Linked DNA regions of Homo sapiens: region 1 is linked to region 2. The links come from fine-mapping of genetic effects on gene expression. A gene starts in region 2. The other region holds a variant in brackets. All regions are shown on one strand. Distances are between the middles of the regions. Region 1 overlaps PRKCE (protein kinase C epsilon). Region 2 holds the start of PRKCE (protein kinase C epsilon).

Evidence for each region. PIP is the estimated chance that this variant, and not a neighbour inherited with it, causes the effect.
Region 1: its variant is fine-mapped to the expression of PRKCE in sun-exposed skin (GTEx, PIP 0.96).

What each region holds. Positions count from the first base shown.
Region 1 is chr2:45,901,627-45,904,534 of GRCh38, forward strand. All of the region lies in intron 2 of PRKCE (protein kinase C epsilon), which reads left to right. Among named protein-coding and RNA genes, the nearest start is that of PRKCE-AS1, 230 kb to the left of the region's middle. The variant T/G (reference allele first, on the strand shown) is at 1,691.
Region 2 is chr2:45,650,402-45,653,309 of GRCh38, forward strand. It overlaps PRKCE (protein kinase C epsilon), which reads left to right and starts at 1,274. Exons shown (of 15, transcript NM_005400.3): 1 at 1,274-2,047. The coding sequence starts at 1,700. LOC102724965 (a long non-coding RNA gene) reads right to left here and starts at 814. Exons shown (of 2, transcript XR_005647119.2): 1 at 1-814. RefSeq lists silencers at 434-533, 704-1,173 and enhancers at 549-843, 1,332-1,952.

The DNA of each region.
Region 1 (2,908 bases), 250 kb after region 2:
TGCTGCTGGGACGATGAAGTGTGTGCACAGCTGATTCGTACAATGTGTTTACATTTCCCATTATGTATCTTAGAGACTCTCCTGTTGTTGCTCAGATTTTTCTTTTTAACTCAGTCTTGGGGTAGAAGATTAAAGTTCCCTGAAGAATATGGAAATGCAGTTGAATTCTTGGAAGTCTGTACCGTGCTGGCCTTGGTTTGTGATGAAGCTCACACACGATGTCTGTAAAACCCTGAAGTCCAGCCAGGTGCGGTAAAAGAGTATGGTGACTTCAGAGTTTAAGAGCAGGTCATTTTGCAATAACTTTTTATAAGAGTACATGGCCATCTTTGCCTTAGGATAGTGAAGTGGTATTTTCCAGGACAGAAGAACTGAAATCATCTGAATTTCTAGGTTGTAGATCCCACAGTCCTTGGGAATTTTGACTTACAAACTAGGAAATTATTTCACCCTCATAAAAATCTCCAACCCTCTCAGGTCTTTCCCACTCCCACTTGGGTTTGAATTGGAGTGTTTGCCCAGCCATGGTGATGATTAGGAGGTGTAGCAATATGGGCCCAGAAGGCGACTTTGGGATTCATCTCTCATCTCTCGTAGTGCATGAGAGAAGCCAGCTCACGGCTCTCTTAGAAAACATCCATTGTTCCTGAAACCTGCAGTAATTGGAACATGAGTGTAATACATACAGTAAACAGAATTCTGCCTATAAGCTCTTACCAAAAGCCTGCCAATGCCCAGCCTGCCAATGCCCAGCCCATCTTGAACTAAGGGGCTGTGATCCAACAGGAGGATATTGCCCACAGGTAGCTCCAAGTCTGCCTGAGGAGCTAAGATAGAAATGAAGTAATCAGAAAATACTAGCAAAAGTCAAATCAGGATATTTGGATTAACATCCTGAGGACATGGGATGTGTGAAAAGCTGTGCTGGGGAAAAGTCAGAAATGAGGAACTGGCTGGAGTGGGCAGGAGAGGCCAGGAGGGTCAGGGAAGTTCTTGGAGCTGGAACTTGGGTAAGGTCTTCAAGAAAGACTGTGACTACACTGGTCTGGGAGCTTGGCTAGGAAGACTTCTGAAGAACCCAGCCCCCAGACCTAAAGTAGGGGCTAGAAAGAAACAGTAACTCAAGGGTTAGTTATGTTTCAAAAATATTTACATTTCTGATATCCAAAGTGTTCTCTGTAGGGTTAATAGCTATTAGAAGGGAACTGGAGTTCAGTGGGCTCTGTGGCCAAATAAGTTTGGATAGTGCTTGAGTGAGCACTGGGAGTTTCTGGACTGCAAGACTACTCAGGCCTTTGTATGCTGATGTACAGTGACTTTCCCAGATGGGCATATATAGCATACAACTTCCTGCTTATTTGATTGTGGAATTATGTATTTTCCCCCCAGGAGGATCCTACGTGAATATAGTTTAGTTCCAAATAATATAATTGAGTTGAGGAAATGCTAGTCTAAATGATTTCACTTCAGTATGTGTTTTAGTGTGAATCACTATCAATAGTCATGTTTTCAGTGGTCTCAGTGCCCGAGGGAGTTGATTGGAAGGAAGTCAGAGGGACTTCATTAAATAAGTCAGTGAATGAGGAGTCCTCCAAGGGATCCCTGCCTGGCAAGAAATACCCTCAGGCCATCTTGGTTCAGAAGTTATTCCTCCATACATTAACAGGCACATAACACAGGCTTTAAAAAA[T/G]ACTAATTTTGTGAATATTATGGCTACTCCATAGACAGAGCATCCCCTTTTCTTCACTTGAGATACAGGGAAGGATTTTGTGTCAATGGTATGGCGTCACCATCCCCATGGGACAGGGTTGCAGCAGCTGGGGCTGTGAGGGAAGATGAGGCCGAAAGACCCAGCAAGATTAGGGTTGCAGGTAAGATACAGGACACCGTTAAATTTGAACTTCAGATCAACTCTGTATAATATTTTGGTATAACTATGTTCCAAATATTGCATGTCACATAGTTATAAAGAATTATTTTTTCTGGAATTGAAACTTAAACAGTCATCTTGTATTTTTATCTCCTGTCTGGTAACCCCATGTAAGATGTTCAGGGAAGCCTAGACACACAGACCAGAAAGTGATGTAGAATGTACAAGGCAAGGCAGTGAGGAATGATTCCAAGTTTTAGAGAGCCCAGGTCTTCCTTCTTGGAAATGGGTTAATACATCCTCAAACCCTCTTCCCACCTCATCACTTTCATCATATCCCCCTCAGTTTGGGAGCATTTGTATATGAGAGCTTGTAGCCTGGCAGTTTTTTTTTGTTTGTTTGTTTGTTTGTTTGTTTGTTTTTTTTGGCAGGGTCTCACTCTGTTGCCCAGGCTGGAGTGCAGTGGCATGATCCCTGCTCACTGCAACCTCCCATTGCTGAGTTCAAGCGATTCTCGTGCCTCACCCTTTGGAGTAGCTGGGATTACAGGCACGCACTACCACACCCAGGTAATTTTTGTATTTTTAGTAGAGACAGGGTTTTGCTATGTTGGCCAGGCTGGTCTCGAACTCTTGATCTCAAGTGATCTGCCCTCCTCGGCCTCCCAATATGCTGGGATTAAATCAAGTGCAAGATCCAAAATGTTACTAAAAAAGCTTTTCAGCTTTTTAGATTCTCTTAAAAATGCAAACAAACAGACAAAACAGTTTCTTAGAAAGAAGCCGGTTGCGTGCGAACCGAGAAGTCTTGAAACCAAAAGAACTCCAAGTTCCCTGCCTGTGCTGAACACTATGGGGGTGGCACGTGCCCATCCAGGGCAAATCACAGGGGGAGAAGATGAGGTTTCTTAACAGTACCACCTCTCACTTTTGGTATTTGTAATGGAGAACACAGACTTATATCACATGTGAAAATGAAACAATGGTTTAAAAAGTCATGTCTCTGTGCTGGCTCTGGATGAGATGAGCCTTTTGAGA
Region 2 (2,908 bases):
AAGGACCAGCGCAAACAGGAACAGTCACTTTGCAAAAAATAAGCAGACCACAAACCAAGCCGGGGCTCTACCGAGCTTTCACTTGTCAACAAGTTCTCGCAGCCTGCGAAGTCCAGGACAGATCCCAAAGGGGAGAATGTCCCCAAAGAAAGGCAAGAGAGAAGAACAGAGTTTAAAACTTCACCCGAGCCATGCTTGTCCCTCCCCCTTCCCCCTCCCCCACCGCCGTGGATCACAGCGTCCCGGGACAGAGTGACAGATGGGCCAGAACTCCGCAGACTGCTCCTGCCCGCCGCGGCCCGAGTGGGGGTGGGCAAGGGAAGGGTCCCGAGGCCTCTAGGGCAACAGGGCCCCCTCCACTCCCCCATCCCCGGCTCTAAAAGACAGTGTTGGCCGCAGGGTCCCCGAGAGATACGCGGCCCGGCGGGGCCCATCCATGGCCATCCACGGCCCCCGGCACGCGCATCCAGCCCAGCGCCGCCGCACCCCGGGGTCCCGCGCGGGGTCCCCGCCCCCCGGCTGACCCGCCCGCCGCTGCGACCCCGGGCAGCCTCGCCAGCTCTCCACCGTTGTCTCCTCGGCTCACTTTTTCCGTATTGCTCCCCCAACCGGCAAAACTTTCTATTTCCCCAAACACTGCCGTGCGCGCGCGCGCGTGCACACACACACACTCACACACACACACTCACACACACTGACGTCTTTTGCGCATTTCCTGCATTAGAGGGAGGGAGACTCGCTCGCACACCGACAGAGGGAGAGGAGACCGCGGGGGAGCGCGGGCTGGCGGGCGGCGAGCGAGCGGCAGCCGAGAGCGGGGACGCGGGGAGCGCGGAGGGCGGGCGCCGGCGCCCAGGAGGTGGGGCCGCGCTGAGTCGCAGTCCCTGCCCCGCCGCCGCGCTGCGCACCGCCCGGTGCTGGCCTGCGCCCCCGAGCCGGATCGGCGGCCGCCCGGACTCCGAGCCCGCGCGGATGTGAGATTCCGGGCTCCTGGCGCCTCCCGATCGCCGGCTCCGGCGCGGCGCTGCTTCGCCCAGGAGGCGGCGGCCCCGGCTGGCCGTGGGGCTTGTGGATTTTTAAAAATTTGGCTCCGAGGAGGACCATTTCCTCTCGACATGCATCCCTCCGGATAGACTGAACATCCCTCCGTTCACCCCCCCGCCCCGCGCGGTCAGAGGCAGGCGCTGAGTGTGCGAAGAGGATCCGGGTTGAAATCTGCGCCCCCGGTTCTCGTCCCCGCCCCGTCCCACCGCCCCATCCCCCTCCCGGAGTCGAAATTTCCCGGGATTATGTTTCGGAAAGGTAGGTAAGCGCCGGGCGCGGCGCCCGCTTTCCCGCAGTCCGGAGCCGGAGAGCCAGCGAGGCGGCGAGGCAGCCCCCGCGGCTTGCAGCGGAGCCGACAGCTCGTCTTCTCTTCTGGAGGTGCAGCTGGTGGTCGGGGGGAGAGACTTGCTCCAAACACGGACATCCCCCAGCTCTCCCCCCTCCCTGTTTTCCGTTAGGAACCCGGCGAGGAAATACATGCACTGGCTGAGAATCGCCCGCGCCAGGGCGCAACGCCACAAGGTGTAGGGAGTGTGCGGGGTGGGGCGAAAGGGGACCCAAGAGTCCCTGTGGCTCGGAGTGCCGGGCCGTCGGTTCTTCATTCCTGCCCTCGGGGCAGACGGAGTGACCCCGGCCCCCACTCCCCGCCCCGACCATGGTAGTGTTCAATGGCCTTCTTAAGATCAAAATCTGCGAGGCCGTGAGCTTGAAGCCCACAGCCTGGTCGCTGCGCCATGCGGTGGGACCCCGGCCGCAGACTTTCCTTCTCGACCCCTACATTGCCCTCAATGTGGACGACTCGCGCATCGGCCAAACGGCCACCAAGCAGAAGACCAACAGCCCGGCCTGGCACGACGAGTTCGTCACCGATGTGTGCAACGGACGCAAGATCGAGCTGGCTGTCTTTCACGATGCCCCCATAGGCTACGACGACTTCGTGGCCAACTGCACCATCCAGTTTGAGGAGCTGCTGCAGAACGGGAGCCGCCACTTCGAGGACTGGGTGAGTGCGGCGCCTCCCCGTCATTCCGGGAACCCGGTTGTGGGGTCCCGGGGAAAGACTCGCTGGTCTTGATCGTAGGGCTCCGGGACTTATTGACGACTGGGGTGTGTGTGCCTGTAAGTCTCAGTTTCCTTGGGGAGGTACACTTCACTTCATAGTTGGGGAGAAACAGGCATTGGCGAGGAAGATGAGACTTGGAAAGAGGATGTGGCCCTCTGCTCCCTCTGTGCCCTCCAGTTGGTGGGTGCTGCGGGAGGTTTGCAAACTGGGAGAGCCTGGGCCACTGGTGCTGAAGGTTGGCCGAGGACCCGGCTTTCTTCCGCAGGCGCGTGGTGGGCTGGCTGTGTGTGATTGTGTGTGGGTGGGTCCCTCCGTCCTTGGAAAGGCACGTGGAGCCTTTGACTGAAGGCTTCTTGCACGTCCTGGCTTTGTCCTGCTTAGCCGAGCGAGGAGTTGCTTTATTTTTCCCTCCGAGAGGAAGCTGGCTTGTTTCTATTCTCTTGCATGGTGGTTAGCTCATCTTCTGACATACAAGTAGAAAAAATGTGTTCTCCTCCAGGATGTCTCCTCTATGGTCCCAGAAACATCAGTCGAGCTTGTTTTGTCCAATTCATTGCCCATCCATGCAGAATGAATGTTGCATTTTAAGAAGGGTTCTGCTTGTGGGTAATTGGAAGTCAGTGCTTTGAATCTTATTTAAAGTTATATTGTTTCTCTGTTTTGATTGTCAAGATACTGTGCAATAAAAGACGATTTCTAAGTATGAGATTGAGTTGTTAATTGATTCCATTATTAAACTATTAAGGATTTGGAAAGAGGTCTTGTCTCAATCTACTATAAACCAAATGCATCCAGTCTTGG